4 linked regions of the Homo sapiens genome follow. The protein of the gene in region 2 interacts with the protein of the main gene of each other region in a pairwise test. Each region holds a gene or a part of one and is shown on either strand. Other genes may lie near its edges. The genes, in order: TMPRSS2, C2CD2L, ZDHHC15 and OPRM1.

The links.
Region 1: the proteins of C2CD2L (region 2) and TMPRSS2 interact in binary tests that used the Homo sapiens proteins (3 or more experiments, as listed by UniProt).
Region 3: the proteins of C2CD2L (region 2) and ZDHHC15 interact in binary tests that used the Homo sapiens proteins (3 or more experiments, as listed by UniProt).
Region 4: the proteins of C2CD2L (region 2) and OPRM1 interact in binary tests that used the Homo sapiens proteins (3 or more experiments, as listed by UniProt).

What each region holds. Positions count from the first base shown.
Region 1 is NC_000021.9:41,498,150-41,505,176, reverse strand, and holds part of TMPRSS2 (transmembrane protease serine 2), read left to right. Parts: intron 1-6,987; coding exon of another isoform or gene 6,988-7,027. UniProt on the Homo sapiens protein: Plasma membrane-anchored serine protease that cleaves at arginine residues. Participates in proteolytic cascades of relevance for the normal physiologic function of the prostate.
Region 2 is NC_000011.10:119,110,325-119,117,351, forward strand, and holds part of C2CD2L (phospholipid transfer protein C2CD2L), read left to right. Parts: intron 1-236; coding exon 237-356; intron 357-522; coding exon 523-633; intron 634-727; coding exon 728-844; intron 845-938; coding exon 939-1,050; intron 1,051-1,196; coding exon 1,197-1,305; intron 1,306-2,003; coding exon 2,004-2,068; intron 2,069-2,157; coding exon 2,158-2,285; intron 2,286-2,375; coding exon 2,376-2,550; intron 2,551-3,286; coding exon 3,287-3,388; intron 3,389-3,527; coding exon of another isoform or gene 3,528-3,530; coding exon 3,531-3,664; intron 3,665-3,755; coding exon 3,756-4,041; intron 4,042-5,700; coding exon of another isoform or gene 5,701-5,720; coding exon 5,721-5,932; 3' UTR 5,933-7,027.
Region 3 is NC_000023.11:75,429,019-75,436,045, forward strand, and holds part of ZDHHC15 (palmitoyltransferase ZDHHC15), read right to left. Parts: intron 2,503-7,027; coding exon 2,433-2,502; intron 963-2,432; coding exon 930-962; intron 181-929; coding exon 60-180; intron 1-59. UniProt on the Homo sapiens protein: Palmitoyltransferase that catalyzes the addition of palmitate onto various protein substrates.
Region 4 is NC_000006.12:154,084,214-154,091,240, reverse strand, and holds part of OPRM1 (mu-type opioid receptor), read right to left. Parts: intron 4,735-7,027; exon of another isoform or gene 3,437-4,734; intron 1,480-3,436; exon of another isoform or gene 1,416-1,479; coding exon 1,063-1,415; intron 290-1,062; coding exon 1-289. UniProt on the Homo sapiens protein: Receptor for endogenous opioids such as beta-endorphin and endomorphin. Receptor for natural and synthetic opioids including morphine, heroin, DAMGO, fentanyl, etorphine, buprenorphin and methadone.

The sequences.
Region 1 (7,027 bases), on a different chromosome or scaffold from region 2:
ACATTGAGGTAGAAAGGAAAGGTGAATGGTCAATGGAGTGCTTGTTCAGTTTTGGTTGCTGAAGACTTGGAAAGTGGCCTTGCTAGTGGGGAGAGTGAGGGCAGGGAGAGCTCCCTGTGGGGAACCAGAGAGCCCAGGAGCATTGAAGGCCCAGGTGCATTTCTGCTCTCTGGTCCCTCCTGCTCTGCACTCCCTGAGTGTCCCTCATCCCACAGTCACCAGGCCTTTGCTACTCTTCCCCGCCCCTCCTTACTTTCCAGGACACCTGCCAGGGGATCCTCCAATATGGGATGCACTGCGTGGCCTCAGGATTGGGGTGCAGGAGCATTATGTACCTGAGAGCTGAGGCCTGTATGGAGTCAGCCTTTGTGGGGCCCCTCCTGGCCCTAAGGGTGATTTGGGAAGCCCTGACTTGCAAGCACCAGGGGTATGGGCCTGGGTGTGAAGAAGGGGGCTTATGATGTCCCCATGGCCATTGACCACCTTGGCCCCACCGAGCCTGTGGACACCCAAGGAGGAGCAAAAGGGGGATCTGTGACAGGGTAGCAGCTTGGTTGAGCACACAGGCAGCTCTTCAGCATGACCTAGAACAGAGGCTGGGCTCCAGGAGGAGGCAGAGCCTGATCTGGGACTTGGTTATTCCTGGTTGCTGAGCAATGGTCAGGAGAGAGGAACTGAATGAGTGGAAATGCGCTGGTTGGGAGTCGAGGCTGGTTTTCTGGCAGGGGTGTGGGTGGTTACTTTTGTTGTAAACAGAGTGAAGTTTGAGAGGGCAGGAAACTCGAAGACAGGCTTTTCATCCTCCTGGAGGTGAGTCTGGGAGAGGGAGGTGAGGGCTCTGACATCTATGTGTGGATGGCGCTGAGCCATTGGGCATCCATGGCAGGAGGGCAGGAGGAGTTTAGGGCACAGAGTTGTGGTAAGAAAGCAGGAAGTGTTTGAAGGGCACCTTGGCTTGTGGTTGTGGCAGCAGAAGTCTGGAAGTTCACTCAAGGGCAGACTAGGTGGAAAAATCGGGGCTGTCAAGTGGGACTCAGAATGAGAGGTTGTGACAATTGGATTTGTTAGAAAAATATTTTCAAGCGAGGTCTGACTTGGCAGATGGAACTAAGCTGAGGCTTTTTATTATTGCTTGTTTGTACGAGGTGCACAATGCAGTGTCAAATTCCCTTTAAGGCCATTGCTTTCCAAGGGGCTGTCCTGGCGGGGCACTCAGCCTGACCCCACTGCAGTATAGCCCAGGGGTCATGGGAGACCATGCTTTCTAGGGACGATGGGCTTGGAGTTCTTTGTGCAAGATACTGATAACAGAGAATTTGCTGACATTTTCAAGTTCACTGGTGATGATGCATTTATAAGGAGTTGGGAGTAATATGAAAGATCACTATGTCTGGTCTTGATGCTCAAGCCTAATTCTGTTCTGGAATATGTTGGAGAAATGATCCTCCAGTCTTGAAACATACATTTTTAGGTTTGAGGAATTCGGTACATTCTAAGGTAGCTCCAGGCCATATGTGAACTTTCTAATTGTTGGAACCTTGATTTCCCCAGATAGAATCCAAGCCTGCTCTTCTGGAAATTCTGATCATGATTCTGGTATTGTCCTTTGGATGTATGCAGAATAAACTGAATTCCTTTTCCACATAGCCGGCTCTTACGTGTTGGAAGATAAACCTTATCTGCCATCATTATGTTATTATTGAGTGCTCACCATGGGTTGGGCACTGAGCTACGGCCTTGCTTTCTCACTTAATCCCTGCAACAACCCTATTTCTGTATCATCCCCATTTTACAGATTGACTTGGACAAGTTCTTTAAGCCTCAGCCAGTGGCTTGTGTGTGGTGTTGAAGTCTCCGCCTGGAGTGACCTGAGGGCCTCTGCCGCCTGCCTGCCTGTCATGCCAGGTTGCACTCAGCTTGAGGCACCTGGACTCCTGGGAGGTCACCCACTGTCCTGACTTGGGCTGCTGGTGTTGTCTGGGTGTGGGCATCTTATCGCCCTCTGCTAAATTTCATCTTACTCATTTGGCCTTTGGAACTCAAAAAATATATATTTTTTCCTGCAAATTGCATTGTATTTCAAATTTACATTTCCGATCGTCTGTTGTTGGTATATAAAAACACATAGATTTTTATATTGATCTTGTATCCCTCAACTTTGCCAAACATGCTTATTAATTTTTCCCCAATAGTTTTTGGGGTACAGGTGGTAAGAACTCCATAAAAACATTTAAATACTGTCTTTGTAAGCTACAAAGTGAGATTTAAAAAACAAACAGAAAGAGAGAGAACCAGACCTGATATCTGCCCTAAAAAGTTTGTAATCTCTTTGGGACAATGAGTCATTCACAGGAAAAGAAACTTGGATGATGCAGGCAATACCTCTCCTAAGGTGATCTTTCTGTTTCTCGCTCAACCTTTCTCTCTCAGTAGAACTCTTGTGCCAATCATTGTGTATGCAATTTACCTGATTATACATAAACAAGTTTCTGCTGAACAGCCACTGAAATCCACTGTTGGCTAACTCATTTAGTCATGCATTCTATCCTTAGGAGGATAGAACATCTCGTTGTATAATGTGATATTAGTGCGGTTATTTTGGCATAAAGGGCTCTTTTTGATGATTTGGTCATTGGCTGGGATGTGTCCGTGGATGGTGGTGGTGGTGCTGTCTGGATTTTGAAGAAGGGGCACTGAGTCTGAGGCTGTCTGTTCCCTCTCACACCTCCAGCAACTCGAACCGTACCAGTCACAGGTGGGGGCTTCGAGAAGGAGAAGGTGTGTGCACAATGGTGCACGGTGAGGTCAGTGGAGACTTCATTGCAGAGAATACCCCTGGATCTTGGGTGGGAGTCAGTGTCTACAAGCCTAACTTCATTCGCGTTGGCTTGGTTGTTTGGAAAGTAAGTCTCCAGTAAACGTGTCCTGAGATCTCCAGAGGAGAGAAACTAGGAGAAAAGATTCTTGTTTTGGCAGTAACTTCATCATGTCATGGGATGCGGATACGATGCCACAGCATCGTCCTGCTGCATGGTGGCCAGGCAGGTGACTCATGGGCTGACTCAGCTCTCAGTCCAGGATGGACCAAAACAGTGCGAGGACAGCTGTGTGCCATTGTGAGATTCAAGTGGGTGACACTGTCTGTATTGAAGGAAGAGCTCCCTGCCAGCCAGGAATGGAGCCTGAGTGCCACCCACTGTTGCTCTTTCACACTTAAAGGAAAATTTCCCCAAGTGCTCATGGTGGCTGGCTTTCCAGAATTGAGAGCCATCATCCCGGTCCTTTAAATGACAGGAGCAAGCATTCGCTAAACAGCATTGTCTCTCGCCATCTACTTTACGTCTTGCTCCTTTCAGAAATGAGTTAATGCGATGTACAAGCTTGTGTGAATGAGGAAATGCCTGTTTTGAAGATGAACAGGACTGAATGTGATTTCCTGGTCTTTTCGGGACAGCAGTGCTTCCCCTTGCAGATCTAATGTCAGAGCGGGACATTCCCCCCCTTGTTTTATTTTCAATTGGAGAATGTTGTTGTTGTTTCTTTTTTTTTTTTTTTTTTTTTTTTTTTTGAGACAGAGTCTCTCTCTGTCACCCAGGCTGGAGTGCAGTGGCCTAATCTTGGCTGACTGCAACCTCTGCCTCCCAGGTTCAAGTGATTCTCCTGCCTCAGCCTCCCAAGTAGCTGGGATTACAGGCACCCACCATCATACCCAGCTAATTTTTGTATTTTTAGTAGAGATGGGGTTTCACTATGTTGGCCAGGCTGGTCTTGAACTCCTGACCTCAGGTGATCTGCCCGCCTTGGCCTCCCAAAGTGCTGGAATTATAGGCAGGAGCCGCCGTGCCCGGCCCAGCTGGAGAATGTTACTGGCAGCATCACTCTGGTCTTCCATTCCAAAGTCCATGGTAACTGACTTGGGCACACGGAATATTTTTGTTTATCATGTTCTGATTGCTGGAAGAGATAGGATTATCCTGTGACTGCCTCTGGGTCCCATGGCTTTTATTTGACAATTAATGGTGGTGGCTCCCGGTGTTCCTTCCTTCCCTGGCTTCCTTGTTAGGGATCGTGAATGAATAGCAAGTGTGGGTTTTGAGTATTGATTCTTCACTCCTTTCAGAGGGCTTCTGAGCTGGGAGAGCTGCCAATGGGATCGAATTTTCACTTCCTGAAACTTCAACCAAACCTGTAACTGGGGAGATAGGACAGCCGAGAAACCAGAGGCATGAGGATGTGTTTGGTTAGGCAGGACTCTTTGAAAGCAATCTTAGGATGGTACTGAGTTCTGTCCTGCTTATGAGACAAGAATGCGGGATTTATTGTGTTGTCAAGCCTGAGGATCCTCTCTCTTCACAAAGCAGACATAGGCAAGGTCTGTTAAGATGTGGCTAAAAGGCTTAAACGTTTTTGATACATTTTAAATGGTGATCCTTCCCACCTGTACATTAGTCACTTTCCTTTCCTTATACCCAGGAAGGTGTGAACTTTAGTTTTAATCCTAGAAAAAGTCCCAAAGCTACAACATGACCTGGTTCTTGTATTTTTATCTGTAATTGAAGAGTAAATAAATGATTGGTGCATGTTTGTTGTAACCTGTTGGGTGAGGTTTCTCGAGACTAAAAAGCCATATACTCATTTTCATTCATGGCAGGCTGTTGGGGTTTTATAGTTTAATGATTCAGCAACCAGTTCTGCTTAGGACACAGGAAAGCGATGGTGTACTGAAGCCGGCCCCACTCTACTTGGCTCCGTGGTGGGCTTCATGTTGGTAGCCTGGGAATACTTACCGAAGGCAAACCTGCGAATCAAGACAGCCCTCTTTTCCTTCAGCAGGTTGTTAAATGTTTATCAGCTTTATAATTCCTCTTATTTAATGGAAAGTTATATAGCACTCATTTTATGCTAAGCATGAAGCACTTCATTAGTATTAACTCATGGAATGCCCTGGAGGTAGGTGTTACTATTATCTGCATTTGCAGATGGGGAAACTGAGGCACAGAACCTTCAATAGCTTCCTCCAGGTCATGGAGAGTGAGTGGCTGAGCCTGAGTTTGGATCTAGAGTCTAGTCTCAGAGGTCAGGGGCTGAACCGCTGCCCAGTGCTGCCTGCTGCTGTTTGAGCACCTGCTTTGTGCCAGCAACTGGGAAATATTCTTCTGTGGCCATGTCACAGACAGTGGACACTGGTCTGGCCAGGTCCGAAGCCCAGAGCCTCCTCCAGGTTCTTGTTCCCTCATTGGGAACATGGTCTTGTGGACGGATAATCTTGAACCCCGTTTCTTAAAATATTCTTTGGTCATTTAAAGCCAAGCGGGAAGGGGTGGAAAAAAGCCCTTTATTTGCTCAGGAAGGTGCATGTTAAAGAAAAAAAAATCGTCCAATGAGACTTGTTAAAATGGTGAAGCGAACTTTATTCAGGACCACGGAGGCAGGTACAGGGACCACAGCCAGCAGATTTTGCAGTGGGAAGAAGAGACTGGGATCCGCTTGAGTACAGTATGGGCAAGTGGGAGTTAATTTATAACCAAGGATCAGGGTGGGGTTGGTGGGTGGAAAAATCACAAAGAGAAAACATCAAGGGTAAGGGGGATTCTGGCTAAACCAACCAAACAGGATTCTTGCTGAAGACAGGCTGGGTGATCAGACATCACCTGTGGCACGGTGGAGGCTGAGGAACCCGATCAGATATCCAGAGTGATCAGATACCGAGGGTGGGAGGTTCTGGCTAAACTGACTGAGCAAGGTTTTTTGCTAAAACTGGATTTTACAAGGAAATGCACAGATGGCCTAGAAGGTTCAGGAGCTTGATATAAGTTTGATCAAGCGAAGAATCTTTGTCCATGGAGAGTGATGTCAGAATGCGGCTTTACTATACAGCATTTCGTGTTGACGGCATCTCTAGCTATTATTGTTAACTGTTCACAAAGGACAACAAGCAAAATGGCCCACAGCTTTCTTTTCATTACTGCTAATCTTAGCAGTGGTCAAAATGGTTGGCTCTGAATTTCTTTCTTTTTTGGGTTTGGGGTAGTAAATGGAGTGACTGTGGACATGTTTTATGGATTATTTTAAGCGTATGTATCTATTAAAAATTGAGAGGGCCCACATGGCCTGCTTTAAAAAGTCAACTGTGAGCTGTATTTGGTGCTGAGCCCTGAACCACCCGCTGGGCAGTGGGTGGCTACTGGCAGTGCCTGTGGACGTTCTCGGGGAAAGACGGTCTGATTGCACCTGCTCTTCCTCAGTTCCTAGTACTGTGAGGCACTCTTTCCCCACTCTCCCACAACCCTCAGCTTAACACAACTGTGGTGATTGCTTTGTCCGTTTTCCCATGAGGACCCTGAGATTTCAACAAGGTTCAGTAACTCACACATCGACACTTCCAGGGAGCTGTGTTGCCAGGAACTGGCCCAGGTCTTTCCCTCCTGGGCCCATCTTGTCCTTAATCTCTGCTGACATTGATGGGTTTAGTTACCTTGTCGTGTTTCTTCAGTGTTTTATGCCATACAGTCTCCCTTGAGTAGATGTTCTGTATAGGGGATATCACAGCTTCCTGGTGAGAACTGGGTTAAGTCCAGCAGGATGCCTGGGCTTAGTGGCACTGGAGTTGTGGGTGGCCTTGAGCCCCAGGCAGTCCCCTGAGAGCCCTTCCCGATGGATGTTTGAGTCACTGAGTGTGTTCCTTCTTCTTTCTGGTCAGGCTGTCCTGGCCGCTGCACTTACAATTGCACCCCATCCTCCTACCCACTCTGATCCCAGAGGAGAGTGCTTCTGCTGTAACCTCTAAGGCACAAGTGGGTCCCAAAGTCCTTAAATATGGAGGGATGTGGGGAAGCAGTGGTGAAGATGCAGGCCAAAGGTCAGCAGGCAACACTGGTCTTTGTTGTAGGTAACCTTCATCTAGAGATTCTTCTAGTTCTTTCCAGATTTATCTTCTAAAAACTAACTGGTATGGAAATATTACAGTCCTGTAATTCTTTCTTCTAGGTCATATTGAACATTCCAGATACCTATCATTACTCGATGC
Region 2 (7,027 bases):
GGAAGTCTGAGAATCCCATTGAAGTTATGTGCAAAATGTTGGATGTGTGTTTATATGCATTTTTCTGGGGAGAGGAGTCTTTGGCATTTATCTGATTCTTTTAGGGATTTATGATCCTGAAAACATGAAGTCCTTAGGAAAACGGAAGTGGGGAGGGGTCTGCTGAACTATTACAGGGCAGTTCAAAGCAGGGTGAGCACCCTTCCCCCACATCTGACCCACCTCGCCGGTCTCAGGTGCTGCGTTGCCAGCTCTCTGCTGAGGAGGTGCGGTTCCCAGTCTCTGTGACCCAGCAGTCCCCCGCTGCCGTCTCCATGGAGACCTACCACGTCACTCTGACACTGCCACCAACACAGGTAGAAGGGGATGTGGGAAACTGAGTTGGGCAGGGGCGGTTCCATTGGCTCAGCTTCTTCCATTTGTTTCCTCTCTGGGATGGAATTCAGGAAGGGAGAGTCCTCGAATTAGGAGTCCTTGGGTAAATGGGGCAAGTCAGCCCAGTCACTTTGTTCCTGTCTGTAGTTGGAAGTCAACCTGGAGGAAATCCCTGGTGAGGGGCTGCTCATATCCTGGGCCTTCACTGATCGCCCAGATCTCAGCCTAACGGTGCTTCCCAAGCTTCAGGCCAGGGAGGTAAGGAGGCAGAGCTGGCAGAGAAGAGGCAGAACGGGGAGGGAGGCAGAGGTGGGGGATCCACCTCCTTGTTGTTCCCTTCTTCTCTCTGCAGAGAGGTGAAGAACAAGTGGAGCTCTCCACAATTGAGGAACTGATCAAGGATGCCATAGTCAGCACCCAGCCAGCCATGATGGTCAACCTCAGGGCTTGCTCTGCCCCAGGAGGCCTGGTGAGTTGGCACCCAAAGCAAAAGATTTGCATGCACCTTGTTCCTAGGGTGCTATGTCAGGATTCTTGCTCTTTGGACCTTCTTCTGCTCTTAGGTACCCAGTGAGAAGCCACCCATGATGCCCCAGGCTCAGCCAGCCATCCCCAGACCTAACCGGTTATTCCTACGGCAGCTTCGGGCATCTCACTTGGGAAATGAGCTGGAAGGTGAGAGCTGGAAGTGGCTGCGGGACTGCCAAGGCTATGGTTGGTTGCAGATGCTCTCTGCCCCTCTGCCAAGGGTACAGCCTCTTTATTCTGCAGTGACTTCCCATCTCTGATCTGAGCATCTTCTAACTTCTGGTTCATCACAGGCACCGAGGAACTGTGCTGTGTAGCTGAACTCGACAACCCCATGCAGCAGAAGTGGACCAAGCCCGCGAGGGCTGGATCCGAGGTGGAGTGGACAGAAGACCTGGCACTGTAAGGAGTAACCCTGCCCCGACCCCATGCTCCAGAGCAGAGAGGATCAAACCTTTCCAGCACAGTCCTTGCAGGAATCAGCTCTGTTTTCAGTAGCCTTTGGCGTGAGCTCCTATTGTATGCCAGGCCCTGGCGTGGGTCTTAGGGATACAGACTTGACCAAGATACAGCCCCCACCCCTGGGTCAATGACAAGCTTGAGGCAGAGACAGGTGTACATAAAGAAGATGGTAAAACCGCTCCAGTTGAGGTTTATGTAATGTGCCGTCAGAGTGCCTAGGTGGGGGGGAGATTAATTCCCATGAGGGAATAAGGATCAGAGTAGGCTTCATGGAGGAGATGACATTTAAACCACACTTTAGAGCAAGAGTAGGATTTCATCAGAGTGTGAAAGTATTCTCGGCAGAGGGAAGAGCTGGAGCAAATGAAAGAGGGTGGCTTGCAACTGAGAGACTGGCAAGACAGGAAGAGCAGGACCAGGGAGGATTTGAATGCATAGCTGAGAAGCATGGTTTCCACTCAGGCCCTGTCCCTTTCTCTTGGGACGAGAGAGAATTTGGAGGCCAGGAGAATCTGATTGGAGCATTTATGCCGTTTTATTTATGTACACAGCTCTCTGCCTCTGGCCTGTGATCCACTCAAGTGTGGGTTCAGCTTGCTAATTTTCTCCTTCCTGCCCCATCTCCTCTTGTCCCACAGGGATCTGGGCCCCCAGAGCCGGGAGCTGACCCTCAAAGTGCTGAGGAGCAGCAGCTGTGGAGACAGTAAGTGAGGGGTGGGAGGGGCACCCCTGGGTGGGTACAGAGTGGGGTCTGGCCATGGGCCCAGCTCACAGTGCCATCCCTTTCCCCAGCCGAACTCCTAGGCCAGGCCACACTGCCTGTGGGCTCCCCCTCCAGACCACTGTCTCGAAGACAGTTGTGCCCACTCACCCCAGGGCCAGGGAAAGCCCTGGGACCAGCAGCCACCATGGCAGTGGAGGTGAGAAGCTGACCCCTGGGGTAGGTGGGAGGACACAGGGGATGGGCAGTCTCCGAGGCTCTGTCTCTTCTCTCTCCCACCCCTGGGCAGCTTCACTATGAGGAGGGCTCTCCCCGGAACCTGGGTACTCCCACCTCCTCCACTCCACGCCCCAGCATCACACCTACCAAGAAGATTGAGCTTGACCGGACCATCATGCCCGATGGCACCATTGTCACCACAGTCACCACTGTCCAGTCCCGGCCCCGTATAGACGGCAAATTAGGTAAAGAGAAGGAGCCTGGGAGCCCAGCTCTAGCCAGGGGCCCGGGACTGCAGACCCAAGGCAGGACAGTGAAAGAGGAGAGAGCCTTAATTCCAACTCCCCCTGTTTTCAGACATTCCATTCCAGTCCTACCACATCTTCCTCCCAATCTTTGTCTCTTCCAAACTTTCCCTTACCTCCTGCCATTTCCCCAGCAATTCCTCTCACTCTGCCACCCTTCTGGATCCTCCTGCCCCTCCTCATACAGGACTGTTGCACTCCTACCTTCCAGCTTCCCCTCTGGCTTTTCACAGGTGTCCTTAGCCCCAGCTGACTATAATTGTCCATCCTGCTACCCTCAGCCCTCCAGCACCCCCTGGGGTCCTCCAACAAACCCAGAGGCCTCTGTGGCATTTCTACCCCACTCAGTGGGCCCCCATGGCACTTCTGCCATTATAGGGGCCCCACTGAATTGCCCCAACTTCAGGGAGCCCCAGTACCCCCTCTGTCCCCGCTCCATATTTTCATAGCATCTCCCCACACCTTCAGCAGGCCCCATGGCACTTTCCTACACTCCCATTAGCTCCTGGGGTGTCTTTTAGTCCCCACGGCATCTTCCTAATCACCCTTGTGATTAATCACCCTTTAATCATTCTTGCCCTCTGAGTCACCCAAAGTCTGCATCTCAACAAAGACAGTAGGGGTGGGGGCCACTCTGAAGCAACTCCCAGCTCACTGACCCTCCCCCACCCACCAGACTCCCCCTCCCGCTCCCCGTCCAAGGTGGAGGTGACCGAGAAGACGACAACTGTGCTGAGTGAGAGCAGTGGCCCCAGCAATACCTCCCATAGCAGCAGCCGTGAGTGGGGAATGGGGTGCATGAGTGTGGGTTGGCCCTGGTGCCCCAGCATCAAAAAGTACTCTGGGTGGGATAGGAGGAGTTCCAATCCAAGAAAGAGCCAGGGAGAAGTCAGGTTATTCATTCTCTGCACCCCTAGCAGGGGACAGCCACCTTTCCAACGGCTTGGACCCTGTAGCAGAGACAGCGATTCGCCAGCTGACAGAGCCCAGTGGGCGGGTGGCCAAGAAGACACCCACCAAGCGCAGCACTCTCATCATCTCTGGTGTTTCCAAGGTAACAGGGCTCTGGGGAGAGGAGCTGGGATGGGGAGAAAGCCCTAATGGGTCGGTCACTCCTGCCCATTAAAACCCGTCCCTCCTGCCAGGTGCCCATTGCTCAGGACGAGTTGGCGCTATCCCTGGGCTATGCGGCATCCCTGGAAGCCTCAGTGCAGGATGATGCAGGGACCAGCGGAGGCCCCTCTTCACCTCCCTCAGACCCACCAGCCATGTCTCCAGGACCGCTAGATGCCCTCTCTAGTCCCACAAGTGTCCAGGAAGCAGACGAGACAACCCGTTCGGATATTTCTGAGAGGCCATCTGTGGATGATATTGAGTCGGAAACGGGGTCCACTGGTGCCCTGGAGACCCGCAGCCTCAAGGATCACAAAGGTAGGGGGACGTTGGCAGGGTGCCCCTCATCTCTTCTTTTATACACATATCATGACCTGGGGGACCTCGAGCCAGTGTGCCTTCTCCTTCCTCCCCTAAGAGATAGCCGGATTCCCAGCCTAGTTCAGCCAAGCTAGCCTAGAGGGGGATCTTGGTGCCTTGGTTCCTGGCCTAGATCTGACATGCTTGTGATAGGAAGGGATGCCAAATTATTTCCCTTTACCTCCATTGTTCTTTCTTCCTGAGTCTAAGTGCCATTTTTCCTGCCCTTTAAAAAAAAATTATAAAAATTTATTCCTAGGCAGGGTGTGGTGGCTCACACCGGCACTTTGGGAGGCCAAGGCGGGTGGCTTACCTGAGTCCAGGAGTTCAAGACTAGCCTGGGCAACATGGCGAGACCCCATCTCTACTAAAAATACAATAAATTGGCTGGGCGTAGTGGCACACACCTGTAATCTCAGCTACTCAGGGGGCTGAGGAGGGAGGATTCCTTGAGCCTGGGAGGTTGAGGTTCAAGGAGGTTGAAGCAGTGAGCCGTGATTGTGCCACTGCACTCCAGCCTGGGTGACAGAGTGAGACCCTGTCTCAAAAAAAATTTTTTTTTTCCATGGCTGGGCACGGTGGTTAATGCCTGTAATCCTAGCACTTTGGGAGGCCAAAGCGGGTGGATCACAAGGTCAGGAGTTCAAGACCAGCCTGGCCAACATGGGTAAACCCCATCTCTACTAAAAATACAAACATTAGCCAGACGTGGTGGCAGGCGCCTATAATCCCAGCTACTTGGGAGGCTGAGGCAGGAGAATCGCTTGAACTGGGGGGTTGGAGGTTGCAGTGAGCCCAGATCATGACACTGCACTCCAGCCTGGGTGACAGAGTGAGACTCTGTCTCAAAAAAAAAAAAAAAAAAAAAAAATTCTTCCCTTTCAATCTGCACCCTCTCCCCAATGAGTATAAGAAATCCTACCCTTGGATTATCCATCTGGCAGCAAGACAGGCAGTGACCAGTGGTGGTAGTTCTTCTAACTTTAAAAGATGAGAGGCTCACCCTAAAACATCTTCATTCCTCTACCAGTGAGACTATCAACCATGGATCTATCTATCTATTTTTTAAGCCTGCATCACTTCTTGAGATAATGAGGTTTCTACCTCCAAAGCCTGCTGGGTGAGCACCTTGCTCATTATACTGGTTCTGAATTTACCTCTTTGAAGTTTCTAGATGCACCACTTCCTGCTCACAGCCTGGAATTCGGTTAACAAGTCAGTGTCAACCTACCTTTCCCTTCATGATTTATAGACTTTTGGGAGTACCTTCTGGTAGCTTTTGTCTTCCCATAGGAAAGAGGCCCAATCCCAGTTTGTCCTCACAAAGCGGCCAGCTCCGTGATATCTCTTTTGCGGGCAGAGTTAAGATTGTACACAGATCCCCACAAGTACCACGATTTTTGCCTCAGGAAGGATAAAGCACATGTTTGTTTCTGCTTTCGTTTTCTTTTTTCTTTTTTTCACGAAGCCTTATGGAGAAGTATGTTTCTGCTTTCTTTCCTGAGGAAGCCTGGCTTCTGGGCCACGGGACTGATCCTGTCCACATCCTCTTTCCCTCCATTCTCCATCGTGTCTCTGCCCCCGTCTCACCCCACCCCGTGCCCCTCTCTGCCTCAGCTTCCCCTCTTCCCCTGCAGTGAGTTTCCTGCGCAGCGGCACTAAGCTCATCTTCCGCCGGAGGCCTAGGCAGAAGGAAGCTGGCCTGAGCCAATCACACGATGACCTCTCCAACGCAACGGCCACGCCCAGTGTCCGAAAGAAGGCCGGCAGCTTTTCTCGCCGCCTTATCAAGCGCTTTTCCTTCAAATCCAAACCCAAGGCCAATGGTAACCCCAGCCCCCAGCTCTGAGGACCCAGCTCTGAAAGGGCACGAGTTCTCTCAGCCCATTCCCCACCTCCCCTTCCATACCCCTTCCTGGATCTCCAGTGCCTGGGCCAGGAAAGCCCTCTGGGTTCCGGGAAGCCCCGTCCACCCTGGGCCATGGGGCCGGTTGGAAGGATACTTGGAACGGGAAGCACATGAGAGGTGGGCACCCGGTGCCGAGGACATGGACGAGGGACTGGTGGCTGGGAGGGAGAGGAGGGCCCTGTCCGGCATGTGTGGGTATTCCCCAGAAGCATTTGCCTCCTGCTGAGCCTGGTCCCTGAGCGGAGTCCCAGGGTGCTCAGCTCTTCAGCTGACCCTTCTTCCCTTATTTATTCTCTTTTCTATTTATATGTGTGGCTTAGGACCCTCCGTGAACAGATGATAGAGGGCATCTCTCCCAGGTGACCCTTCTTTTCTGTCCCAGGAGGGTGGGTAATTCCCTTTGGGATGGGGCTCCCACACCTCCCTCAGGTCCCCACTCAGACCAGCACCAGTGTCTGCCTCTGAGAATGTTGGCAGCTCACAGAGAGCAGGGCCGGCCCGGGATGGGGGGCAGGTACTCCCCACCTTCCTGCCTCCCCTCCTGCTCCTCATCCCTCCCTCCCCCTTTATTACCGTTTTTTGTACTTGATGCCTTCTCTGTGAGCAGTGGCTCTGTGGGAAGGAGGGAGCCGGGAGCCTGGTGGGAAGCCTTCCCCAGAGAGATGGCTTTAGGGGCTTTATTTAAAGACTGTGATGATGGAGCCACGCAAGGCTGCACCTCTGTGTGTTGGGAGACGATGATGATGTCCATTGCTGTGTGATGGCTTGGAATTTAATTTATTAAAGTCAAATTGGAGTTTATAAACTGGACAACTGGTTATCCTTTGAAAGGCAGTAGGCAGCCAGGCTGTGACATGGATGGTGTGGGAGGATGAGACAGGGGCCCGGATAATGAGGTTGGGTAGATGACACACATTGTGGATCTGCTAAGAAGTTCCTGCAGGGAAGAAGGGGTGTGCAGAGAAAGGATGGAAGAGACAGGAGGCTCTGGAGTATGAAATTGTAGCAAAAAACTCAATCAACTAGTACAGGTTA
Region 3 (7,027 bases), on a different chromosome or scaffold from region 2:
ACAAGTTGGAGTGGGTGTGCATTTGTTCTAGGGGACCCTTCAGGATATTTTTAACTTACTCTCCAGTATTTGATGAAATAGCTGAAGACTGTCGTAGCAATGTACAGGCAGTAGAGAACAGAGTAAGCTAAGAATTGAAGGAAGAATTTGTAGTTGGAAAATCCAATGCAGTTATTAACCCTAAAAAAAAAGAAAAACTAATTTGACATCAGGACCTCTTGATTGAGAGCACACTGATACATAAGTGAACTAAGCAATGGAATAATGCTAGTTCTGCTGCTTCATTATGTGTCGTGTAAAAGCCCAATAGAGATAGAAGTCCCTTAATAAGAACAAACTGGATAAAACAAGTTCATGTCTCACTTGTTTATTCTTTCATTTACAGGCACAGAAACACCTGGCCTGCCTAATAGCTCTGGACTGGTTCGTGACACATCCAAGCAAACCTGGATCCTGGTTGCTAAAAATGTATTACAGTTTTAGCAGCTACATTTGGTACAGTTGTGGCATGTTCTTTTTGTAGTTAGGTGATTTCAGACTGGCCCGCAGGGTCTGATATACAAAATTTGGAAAATTGCTGAATTTAACATTCTAGAATATTTCAAACATCAAGCCAACTAGAAACAGAACTGAATTGTGTAATGTTAAAAGGAGAAATGTTTGTGCTGTATTTCATTACTATGCTCAATTGCTAAAGTTAATGAATATGAGACCATTAGCTTTGTAACTCCAGGAATTCACTACCATACCTTTGGTGTTATATTTTTTCTTTATTTAAAATGTTACCCCTCCCCTGTCCCCTACAGAAATATAAAACCCAGTGAATTATGGTGGCAGAAACAGGCATGTGACAACTATGCTTAGAAAAGTGCATATAATTGAGCAACTTTGACCCCTTTAGAGGAGAGAAATGAATCAAACAGACATACCAAGGGCAGTGATGATCCATTTTTAACACACACCTACGAAGGGGACAAAATACAGTGTGATAAGTGAGGCTATGGAAATGAAGCAACATCTCATAATTAAACTCAAGGTTTCACCAGTATTTTTACATGGTTCTAATAACACCCATTCTCAGATTTCCACTATAGTGACTCCAAAACTGTGGCCCTCAGTTATTTCTAGGATGAGGTAATCACAACAACACTTTATAGGATCATGCCAGCAGCAAGTTACATGCTTATAAGTCCAACCTTTCAAAGGGATTGGAAACTCCAGATTATTAATACAGAGAAAAGGTTCAAGATGTCTCCTATCATTTTATTCAATACTTAGTTTAATAAAAATACAGAAGAAAATATATGGCTATAGCCTCTATCTGAATCAAGGGTAAGAAAAATATGGGTGGAATAAGTACTCAAGAGAAAAGGCATTACATGTATCAATATAAAAATGGGGTTTGCAAAGCTGGAACAATTTGGGCAACAAAAAAGTAGTATTGGGTTATAATGCAAAATGTAAAATGAATATTTATGCTTTCATACTGATATAAATAAATGATTGAATAAATAAATAAATGAAGAGAAGAGATAAATGTCCCAAGCAAAATAACTTGAAATAATTTGTGTAGATACTCCACCTTCAAGGATGGAGGGCATAACTTTCCATTCCTTTAGTGTTGGCTGTGCATAGTGACTTCCTTTCAAAGAGTAAAGCATAGAAAGGAAGAACAATTTTACAGTGGTGAAACCTGACATACTACCTCAGCCAGATGATCAAAATTAACCTTTCAGTGATAAGTCATGTTTATAGGTACCCTTAATATGATGTAATGAGAATGGCACCTTACTCTGTCGTCTTCCTCCCCCAGATCATATTACCCCAGTCTAACAATGATGAGGAAAGCATCAAACAAATCTCAATCAAGGGACACTCTATGACCTACTTGACCATTAATCCTAAATACTGTCAAGGTTATCAAAAACAAGTCTGGGATACTGCCACAGCTAAGAGAAGCTAAGGAGATGAGACATCACTATTAAATGTAATGTGGTATCCTGGATGGGATCCTGGAACAGATAAAGGACATTATGGAAAAACTGAGGAAATCTAAATATAGACTTCAGTTAAAAATAATGTATCAGTATTAGTTCATTAATTGTAACAAATGTATCATACAAATATAAGATGTTAACAACAAGGGAAACTGGGTGTGAGACATACAAGAACTATCTTCACAATAAATCTGTAAGTCTAAAACTGTCCACAAATACAATGTTAGTTTTTAAAATGTGGTCTTACTTCTCTTACTTATCTTTAGAGTAGCTTGGATCATCATCATCCGTGTGAGGGGTTTTGGCATATGCTCATTATAATTGAAAGGAAATGCTCTTATCTAGGTATGATTACATGTTAGGATCAGTCATTTTGTTGTCTAGGAAACCTTCAGTGGCCAAGCCCAGCCCAGGGGAAATATGGCCGTCACTTACATAGCACAGACAGAGCAGTGGTGGCAGCGGTCTGGCTTGATCAGATGACACCGGTCACAGAATCGTACAGCTATAAAAAAAAAAATAAGGTGGTTAGCACTTGTTAGGGCTCAATATAAGACCTTATATCTTACTAGCTTATCTGGATGACTTGTTATGCACTGATTATAGATAGTCAAACTCATCTCAAGTTACCAAGCAAAAGGCAGACTACATAAGAGAATTGGGGTATATATTTTTTTCCTTGTTGTATCCAATTTTGAAAGCACTTTTGGGGGCTGAAAGGAACGAGAAAAGTTTCTTATCTGGATATCTGTCATAAGATCTTTCATTATAAAACAAACTATACTATCAAATGCTTGAGGGATCTTGAAAAACCATTTAGCCTCTATTTACCCCCAACTTTCTGATCTGAAAATAAGGATTCACAGTTTATCTCCTGTCTCCAGAGGTTGGATTGTATGTGGTGGATAACACTCCTAAAACATGGTAAAGAGAGTGGTTTCTAGAATAATAATTTGGGGAACAGAAGAGACATTCTAGAACAATTAGTTTAATTGACCATTTCACAGATAAAGGAAATAAAGATCTGGGTCATATCAAGTGATTTGCCCAGGGTCACACAGCAAGTTGCTGGCAGGGCTGTGACCTGTACAGTTTTGATGATTTCTTATTTTAGGATTCTTTTAACTCTGTAATTCTTATTTTAGGATTCTAATATAAAAAAATCATTCCTCCTTCCCTCCCTCCTTCATTCCTTCCTTTCTTCCTTCCTTCCTTTCCTTTAGATGAAAGGTATTTTACTTTCCCTCTCATTTTCTAGATGTTCATTGATAGAGTACGACTGTGTTTAATGTGATTATTAAGTATAAAAACTAAAATGATGAATAATTTGAACTAATATAATCATTTCATCTAAAGTGTACATTAAGCACATATTACTGATTCAACACAATAGACAGTTAATTCAGCAGAGATTTGTGTTTACTTCCACTAATGGAAGTATGTGAGTGACTAAAGTCGTGGGTATAATTGAGTCAAAGAGGAAGGGAGAAGAACATGCATATCTGGGTCCTTTTGCATATTTTAAAATATACTGTCAATGCTCCTATCCTCATTTAAGCCACATTGTCTCTTAGCTAGTTGACTGCAATATCTGTGTAATTTATCACTCTGCTTTCATACTTGCCCCTCAAAAGACCTACTATACAGAGTAGCTGGGTGATCTGTCAAAATCTACATCAGATCTGGTGTAGTGGCTCATGTCTATAATCCCAGCACTTTGAGAGACTGAGGCACAACTATCGCTTGAGACCAAGAGTTCCAGACCAGCCTGGACAACATAGTGAGACCCTGTCTCTATAAAAAAATAAAATAAAATAAATTAGCCAGGCATGGTGGTGTGCACTTGTGGCCTCAGCTACTTGGGAGGCCGAGGCGGGAGGATTGCTAGAGCCCAGGAGTTCGAGGCTGCTGTGATCCATGAATGAACCACTGTACTCCAGCCTGGGCGATAGAGCAAGATCCTGTTTCTAAAAATAAAAAAAAAAATGTAAATCAGATCATATCACTCTCCACTTAAAACTCTCAATGGATTTCCAACACCTTCAGAATAAAATCCAAACTCCTTACCATGGCCTGTATCATCTAGCCTCTGCCTATCTCTTCAAATGAATCTTGTAAAACTCTCCTCATACTATGTTCCAGTGAAACTGGCTGCCTATCTGCTCTTGTAATCAAGCTTGCTCCTGTTTCAAGGCTTTTTGTGCTTGCAGTTCCTTTTGCCTGGGATGATCATCCCTCTGCTCCTTTTGGTATGATGGTTAATTTTACTTTTTTTATTTCAATAGGTTTTTGGGGAACAGGTGGTGTTTGGTTACATGGATAAGTTGTTTAGTGGTGATTTCTGAGATTTTGGTGCACCCACCATCTAAGCCGTAAACACTGTACCCAGCATGTAGTCTGTTAACCCTTGCCACCCCCTACCCTTCCCCCTGAGTCCCCAGAGTACACTATATCATTCTTAGGCTTTTGCATCCTCATAGCTTAGCTCTCACTCATAATTGAAAACATATGATATTAGGTTTTCCACTCCTGAGTTACTTTACATAGAATAATGGTCTCCAACTCCATCCAGGTTGCTGAGAATGCCATGATTTTGTTCCCTTTTTATGGCCAAGTAGTGTATATTTTTTATGGCTGAGTAGTGTGTGTGTGTGTGTGTGTGTGTGTGTGTGTGTGTGTGTGTATATATATATATATATATATGTAACATTTTCTTTATTCACTCATTGGTTTGGGCTGGTTCCATATTTTTGTAATTTGTAATTGCAAACTGTGTTGCGATGAACATGCCTGTGCAAGTGTCTTTTTCATATAATGACTTCTTTTGCTCTGGGTAAATACCCAGGAGTGGGATTGTTGGATCAAATGACAGATCTACGTTAGTTCTTTAAGGAATCTCCATACTGTTTTCCATAGTGGTTGTAGTAGTTCATATTCCCACCAGGAGTGTAAAAGCGTTCCCTTTTCACCACATCAAAGCCAACGTTTATTATGCTTTGATTTTTAAATTACGGCCATTCTTGCAGGAATAAGGTGGTATTGCATTGTGGTTTTGACTTGCATTTCCCTGAAAATTAGTGATGTTGAGAATATTTTCACGTTTGTTGGCCATTTGTATATCTTCTTTTGAGAATTGTTTATTCAGGTCCTTAGCCCACTTTTTGATGGGATTGTTTTTTTCTTGCTGATTTGTTTGGGTTCCTTGTAGATTCTGGATATTCGTCCCTTGTCACATGCATAGTTTGTGGATAATTTTTCCCAGCCTTTGGGTTGTCTGTTTACTCTGCTATTTCTTTTCCTATGCAGAAGCTTTCTAGTTTAATTAAGTCCCATCAATTTATCTTTGTTGGTGTTGCATTTGCCTTTGGGTTCTTGGTCATGAACTATTTGCATAGGCCAATATCTAGCAAAGTTTTTCCAATGTTATCTTCTATAATGTTTATGGTTTCAGGTCTTAGATTTAAGTCTTCGATCCAACTTGAGTTCAGTAGATTTTTGTATATGGTGATAAATGAGGATCCAGTTTCATTCTTCTACATGTGGCTTGCCAATTATCCCAGCATCATTTGTTGAATAGGGTGTCTTTCCCCACTTTATGTTTTTGTTTGCTTTGTCAAAAATCAGTTAGCTGTAAGTATTTGGGCTTATTTCTGGGTTCCTATTCTGTTCCATTGGTCTATGCACCTATTTTTATACCTGTACCATGCTGCTTTGGTGACTATAGCCTTGTAGTATAGTTTGAAGTCAGGTAACGTGATGCCTCCAGATTTGTTCTTTTTGCTTACTCTTGCTTTGCCTAATGCGGGCTTTTATAGTTTCACATGAATTTTAGAATTGTTTTTTCCAGTGCTGTGAAGAATGATGGTGGTAGTTTGATGGGAATTGCATTGAATGTGTATATTGCTTTTGGCAGCATGGTCATTTTCACAATATTGATTATACCCATTCATGGGCATGGGATGTGTTTCCATTTGTTTACGTTGTCTATGATTTCTTTCAGCAGTGTTTTGTAGTTTTCCTTGTAGAGGTCTTTCATGTCCTTGGTTAGGTATATTTCTAAGTTTTGTTTGTTTGTTTGTTTTCTGCTATAGTAAAAGTAGTGGAGTTCTTGATTTGATTCTCAGCTTGGTTGCTGTTGGTGTATAGCACTGCTACTGATTTGTATACATTAATTTTGTAACGTGAAATTTTATTGAATTCATTGATCAGATCCAGGAGCTTTTTGGAAGAGTCTTTAGGGTTTTCTAGGTATATGATCACATTATCAGCAAACAGTGACTGTTTGACTTCCTCTTTATTCATTTGGATGTCCTTTATTTCTTTCTCTTGTCTGATCACTCTGGCTAGGACTTCCAGTACTATGTTGAATAGAAATGGTGAAAGTGGGCATCTTTGTCTTGTTCCAGTTCTCAGGAACAATGCTTTCAACTTTTCCCCATTCAGTATAATTTAGCTGTGGGTTTGTCATAGATGGCTTTTATTACCTTAACATATTTCCCTTCTATGCTGATTTTGCTGAGGATTTTAATCATAAAGGGATGCTGGATTTTGTCAAATGTTTTTTCTGCGTCTATTGAGATGATCATGTGATTTTTGTTTTTACTTATGTTTATGTGGTGTACCACATTTATTGACTTGCCTGTGTTAAACCAACCCTGAATCCATGGTATGAAACCCACATGATGATGATGGATTATGTTTTTGATATGCTGTTGAATTCGGTTAGCTAGTATTTTGTTGAGGATTTCTGCATCTATATTCATTAGGAATATTGGTCTGCAGTTTTCTTTTTTAGCTATGTTCTTTCCTGGTTTTTGGTACTAGGGTAATATTGGCTTCATAGAATAATTTAGGAAGGATTCCCTCTTTCTCTGTCTTTTGGAATAGTTTCAGTAGGAGTGGTACCAATTCTTCTTTGAGTGTCTGATAGAATTCAGCTGTGAATCCATCTGGCCCTGGACTTTTTTTTGTTGGCAATTTTTTTATTACCATTTTAATCTTGCTGCTTGTTACTGGCCTCTTCAGAGTTC
Region 4 (7,027 bases), on a different chromosome or scaffold from region 2:
GGGATTGTAACCAAGGCTTTAATGATGACGTAAATGTGAATGGGAGTCCAGCAGACGATGAACACAGCCACCACCACCAGCACCATCCTGGTGATCCTTCGAAGATTCCTGTCCTTTTCTTTGGAGCCAGAGAGCATGCGGACACTCTTGAGGCGCAAGATCATCAGTCCATAGCACACGGTAATGATGAGCACTGGCATAATGAAGGCGAAGATGAAAACACAGATCTTCAGCAGGTTTTCCCAGTACCAGGTTGGATGAGAGAATGTTAGTGTACAATCTATGGAACCTAGAAGAAAGGAATTTAAAGGAAAAATTAGCAGCAACATTTAATTATGTCATAAGGTGTTAATACTGCCATTTTGCTCATTCATTTTTAGCCTTGACCAGAGCTAACTTAAGGCTATAAAGAAATTGTGGAAGAAACTCAGTTGTTTGTTACTTTTCAAAGAAAGTTTTACTTCTAATGTTTTTTGTTTTTTTCTAAATTTCCCATTTTGCAGTCCACTTCGATCACATTAAGCTTTCGTTCAGGGAACAAAAATGAACCTCTCAACATGAGCTAGATCCTCCATGAGGTCTATATTGATATAAAAAATGTAATAATTGTCCAAAGTCTCTAGGCGGCTCCAGGTAATGGATGTTTTCACTTCATTTTTTGATGGATTGTTCAATATTCTGATATTAGGTGTAGAAAGATACATTTGCCATGTAGTCAGCCACTTGATAATTTTAAACAAGCCTCAGTGTAATACTCTTTGGGTTTAAGCTCCAATTACTCTTGGGAGAGCTATGTACTAATTTACACACCATTTTTATGAAGTAAATACAGAGAAATCAGAAATAAATAGATTACATTCTCTTTAAAGGATTTAATAGGCCTAAAATTATGAGGAAAATTCCTATTTTTAAGTATTCAAAGGCTTTTTTTGCTAGGAAGAATAATTAAAATTACAATGTGACTAAGACAATGGGGCACTCCATAAATACTGCTTTGCTTATGACATCACCAACATATCAGGCTGTGAACCCTCCTTCCCTCAGGCTGGTAACATCACTCACCTTGCCTGTATTTTGTTGTAGCCATGAACATTACAGGAAGACCAATGGCTGAAGAGAGGATCCAGTTGCAGACATTGATAATTTTGGCATTTCGGGGAGTACGGAAATCTAAGGCCTTGACAGGGTGGCAGACTGCAATGTATCGATCAACACTCATGGTGCAGAGGGTGAATATGCTGGTGAACATGTTATAGTAATCTATGGAGATCACTATCTTGCAAAGGATGGTTCCAAATGGCCATGTTCCCATTAGGTAATTCACACTCTGGAAGGGCAGGGTACTGGTGGCTAAGGCATCTGCCAGAGCAAGGTTGAAAATGTAGATGTTGGTGGCAGTCTTCATCTTGGTGTATCTAGGAGATAAAGGAAGAAGAGTGAGAATCAGTAAAAGACACTAGTGTAAAATATAGGTAAGCTTCCAATAATAAATTTGCATGAATTAGTAGAAAGCTTTTTTGAGATTAGATATAGAATTGTTTTCCAGTATCAGCTTGGCTATTTACAATGATGTCAATGATGTACCTATTGGCTAAATAGCTGCAATAATAGCAACGATGCTGCTTTGTTGAGTTTCTTCCTTTTTTTTTTTTTTTGGATAGGATCTTGCCCTGTTACCCAGGCTGGAGTGTAATGGTATGAACAGAGCTCACTACAGCTTTAACCTCCTGGACTCAAGAGATCCTCTTGCCTCACCTCCTGAATAACTGGGATCCCAGGTGCATGCCACCATACCCTGTTAATTTTAAAAAACTTTTGTAGGGACAGGGTCTTGACATGTTGCTTAGGGTGGTCTTGAACTCTTGGGCTCAAGCAGTCCTCCCTCCTCGGCCTCCCAAAGTGTTTGTGTTACAGGCATGAGACACCACACGCAGTGAGGGTTTTAATTTTTTTTTTTGTAATGTGTCAGTCATTGTGATAGGTCTAATAGAAAGAGGGAGATTCCAGTCAAATAGTAGGGGCAGCGACTGGATAGTAATTCTAAATATAAAAGAGAAAATTTTAGCTATATAAATATAGTTAAAATTATCAAGAAGTATAATTGTGCAAGTGTCTATAGGTATGTACACAAACACATGCACATACAAACACACAGGCGATTATGGGGCACAGAGATGAGGCATCTCACAGAGCATAAGGCAAAGGGAATAGTAGGAGTAAGATGTGGAAGGCATCCTGGAAGTGCAAGTTTAATCTCAAAGCACAAGCAGGATGATTGAGTTAGACACTTGGTAGGAGCAGGTCATTCTAGACAGAGAGGTAACAGAGAGAACCCCAACAAAGATGTAGAGTTGGAATGGCCTGATGTGTGTGTCAAGCACATTCTACCAGGGAATGGCAAGGGATCTGACTGGGGAAGAAGAGAGGCCAGTACATGAAGAACTTGTATGCCATGGTAAGATTAGACTCTATCCAATCCATGATGAGGAACCCAAGTGTGTTTGCTTTGTTTTTATTTTTTAATGCTTTATTGAGGTGGAATTGACCTATAATAAATAACGCATAATTAAAGTATACAATTTGATAAGCTTTGATACGTGTGTACACCTGTGAAACCACCACCATAATTAAGATCAGAGATTGGCAAACTATGGTGTGTAGACCCAATTGGACCGTTGCCTGTTTTATAAATAAATACACCTATTTAAAAACCCATAAGTGTTTTGATGCTACAATGGCAAAGTTCAATAATTGCAACAGAGATCAGATGACATGCAAAGCCTAAGTTATTTACTATCTTGCACTTTACAGAAAAAAATGTCAACCTCTGATGAAGATAATGACATCAATTGCTCCCAAAAGTGTCTTTGTGTAGCTCTTTAATCTTTCCTGTTTGCCCCTCCCTGTCCTCATATCCAACCCTCACTATTCCTCAGGCAATTGCTGATCTTGGTTTGCTTTCTGTTCTTATAGATTAGTTTGCATTTCCTAGAAGATGCAAATAGAATCATTCAGTATGTACTCTTTTTTTGTGCTGCTTCTTTCACTCAGTGTCATTATTTTGAGATTCATCTATGTGGTTGCATATAACAAGAATTAATTCCTTGTTATTGACAAGTAGTATTACTTATGCATTCATCTGTTTTTTTTTTTAATCCATTCACCTATTAATGGGAACTGAGTTGCATACAACTTTTGGATGTTACAAATGAACTGTTACGAACATTCATGTGCAAGTCTTTATATAAACATATGCTTTTCTTCCTCCTGGGTAAGTATCTAGGAGTGTTATATGTTTTCAAGGCCTGCAGAAATTAGAAATATGATAGTAGAATATAAGCAGGTACACTTGCAATAATACATTATATCTGATGGCAGAAGTATACCTTGTAAACATTGGACATCATTTTTTTTTTAACATTCCACATATATTTACCTTAATTTAGTAATAGTACCTCAGTTTCACTCTGGGAACCACTCATTTCCCGTTCTCAGTCCAGGTGCTTTGGGATAGGCTGTATTACCAGTCCAGGGCGTGAAGACGTTTAGTGACCGGGGCCATGGTGAATGGCAAGGATGCTCTCATGTTCCAACCAGAGCCAGTGAGAGTTTATTTTGAGACTTATGGACAAAGAGTGTATTAGTTTTCCTGCAGGACCCACACCTGAGAAGACGCATGGTATGTAGTTGCTGGAGGAGCTTGTCTGAAAATGGACCTAATCCGGAGGATGTGGATTTGAGAGCGTGAGAGAGAACCCCACACCTGAAGCCAGGCCCTCCTTGGGCTTCTGATTTACACGGTGCCATCAATTCCTTTTAAATGTTAGCTTGTGTTTACTGTTTTTCCGTCACACGAGGTTGAGTCTAACTCATTCAGCCCAAGACAGCTGTTGGTTGGAGGCCCTTTGTTTAGGACTGAATTCAGTGTCCAGGAAAGTGTTTTGGTTTCAATAACATCAGGAAAGTGATTTCATAAATCTCCTCAGGGTCAATAGGACAGCTTTGTTACTGAAGCTTTAAAATTCTGATACCTGATCTGGTCTGCAATACTTGCAGAAGCTGCATTACTGCCAGAAAAGCTCCACATTTTCAGACTTGGGGGCTTTTTTTTGGACTTACTTTGGGAGTTTCACTTTCTTAATGGATTTTAAAGAAAAAGATAGAGCCATTTAACTTGAGGAGAGAAAATAATTTGCTTTTAGTTTGGACTTTAAATATGGCAAATATAAAAAGGATAATGTAGACAAATACTCCAAAGTACAAAAACCAACAAAAAAGCAAAATTAAAACTGTGGTTTTAAGATTTAGAATAATTGACCTTGGTGCTCAAGAAGTTGAAACATTTTTTATTTTTTTAATAAGAAGAAGTTTCTCCCCAAAAGAGAAAATAACTTTTGCTAGATTCACCGTTGGTTATAGACCTGCATGATCTAAAGACATGCTTCATTGCATTTGCCACTTTCCTACCCAGCAGACCTTACATTTCGTGGCTTATCTTTAATGGTGTTTTATGTTAAGTAATTGGTTTCTTTACAGTCAGTTTTCTGACTCATCATACTTCCAACCTTTCCTTCAGGCTTATTTTAGCACTAAGTATTTCCAATGTATGTTTATTTTAATTAAAAAAAATCATTTCCTTCTCCAGAGTGAGGTGTTTGTGGAAAAAAAAATTATGTCAGGGTTCAACATGGTGAAAGGAAACGTGGTTATGCATAGTTAATTAGCATGCTAGCCATTCCACAATGTGTATACATTTCAAAACATCATGTTGTATATGGTAAATATACATAATTTTATCATCAATTTACCAAAAAAAAGTGAATATTTATCTATAAAAATTCTTTCAACGGGCATTTTATAGGAATGATGCTGTTTAATTTTTCTCAATTTATTTAAAAAGTCTTCCTCTAAAGATAGCCAGCATTCTTACCCCAGTTACTCATGCTTTGGATCACAGCAACATATAAAAGGGGGCTCAACGATCTTCTAAATATGTGAAAGAAAATTATACAAAGCTAAAGGATTAAGAATTCCAATTGCCTCCAGCATATACCCAAAGGCTTTAATCTGAAGAGATGGTCTAATCAGAAAAGGAGTAATGTGGGCTGGGCCTGGTGGCTCAAGCCTATAATCCCAGCACTTTGGGAGGCTGAGGTGAATGGATCACTTGAGGGCAGGGGAAGGAGACCAGCCTGGTCAACCCTGTCTCTACTAAAATTAGAAAAATTAGCTGGGGGTGGTGGCAGGCACCTGCAATCCCAGCTACTTGGGAGGCTGAGGCAGGAGAATCGTACCACTGCATTCCAGCCTGAGCAACAGAGAGAGACACTGTCTCAAAAAAAAAAAAAAAAAGGGCAAGCTTTCATTCTGTTCTGATGTGGTGGCATGAATGTTGTCCCAGCAAAGTTCAATGAATGCTCAGAGTCACATCATGGGCCTTGCACAGGAGCATAGGACTCAGAGTTAGCAAACTAGCAAAAGAAATGACCTGCAGGAAGAATTATCTTTGCCATTCAGTTTACCTGAGTGGGTCCGAGTAGAACTCCTGGCTATTAAAACACAAGCCTTTTTCCTTACTCCATGCCTACTGCTTTGTACTGTGCTGTGAATGTGTTCTGTGGCAAAATGGGCAAAGAGAGACTCATCTGGACTCACAGGCCATCCTGATATTGACCCTTCCTATGGTAGCCACTGAACTCCATCTTCTGCTCGAAGCAGTGGCCCAAGCTATTTCTTTCTAATTATCCCATTAAAATTTTTGTAGTAGGTATTTCTTTAACTTTGGTCTAGATGATTAAATAGCTCTTTTGTTTTATGAATTCAAATGAATTTACAATGCTATTCGTTTTTGAAAAAAATTGTGTTCTTCTGAGAACCATCGATGTTTGACCCATTAGAGTGATTTTTATGGAACTTCCAGAAGTGTTGGGGAAAAGGCATTGTGAGGCCCATTTGCTGGCAGCTCACCTATTCTTTTATGTTGCATATATGACTTTTGTTTATAGATGTTCTTCCTTTCTTATGGTTATAAAATAATTCTTATTTATCTTTTGACCTATTCTTCACACATTTCTCCAACTATTACTACTTACAAAATGTGATTGCTTTTGACCTATTTGTGTTAAGTGAAGCCAGACTAAATAAATTACCTCTGTACACCTGATGGGTTTTGTAAACTTCTGTTTAGTTTTGTGGTTAATTATTTGAATTGTGGTGATCGTGTCTCAGTTCAGAAATAAAACTGATCAAGAGAGTGAGAGGAGGAAGGACACATTTTAGAATCCAGCATGTGTGTGTGTGTGTGTGTGTGTGTGTGTGTGTGTTTAATTCCACATCATGGCCTTCATATTGCTCAACTACCTTTTTCATAAGTTCACAATAGAGTCAATGGTGATGGACGGAAGAGTTTCATCTCTTTTGGGGCTAATTTTTCTGCCTTTTCATTTTTTTTACCAAGTAGTGTGAAGAAAGATACCTAATTCAGTAAGAATTCAACAAGCCCCTTTTATATGTTCAGCAATGTGCTTGGAAAGATATATTTCTTGCATTTGCCATGACTTTTATGTCCACTTACCCTCACATAGAAATTAACCTTTTTAGTCGAGAAAAAAATCCTCCCTAGAGTGTCATACTTTAATACTCATATTTAATTGGATCAATCCAATGAGATAAAGATACTTTCCTACATTTCAAGTAATTATTTAGGCAAAGAATATGGTCAAATGAGTATCTACCTGAGTTAATTGATCCATTATTATCCATCTATTCCATTCTGATATCCCAGGTGCGTTTTTACTTGTGAGTGTGTGTGTGTGTGTCTGTCTGTCTGTTGGGGGGGGAGGTTCTAAAATAAGAAAAAGCATAATCAAAACTAGTGATTATCCTCTCATTGGCATTAACATGGAGAAAGACTATATATTAGGTTGCTATTTTGTATTATATTCTCCACTAGCTTAGTGAAGGGGAGAATGGAGGACTTCTCACTTTGCTATAAAATGTTGTGAAACATTTAATTTACATTTATTTC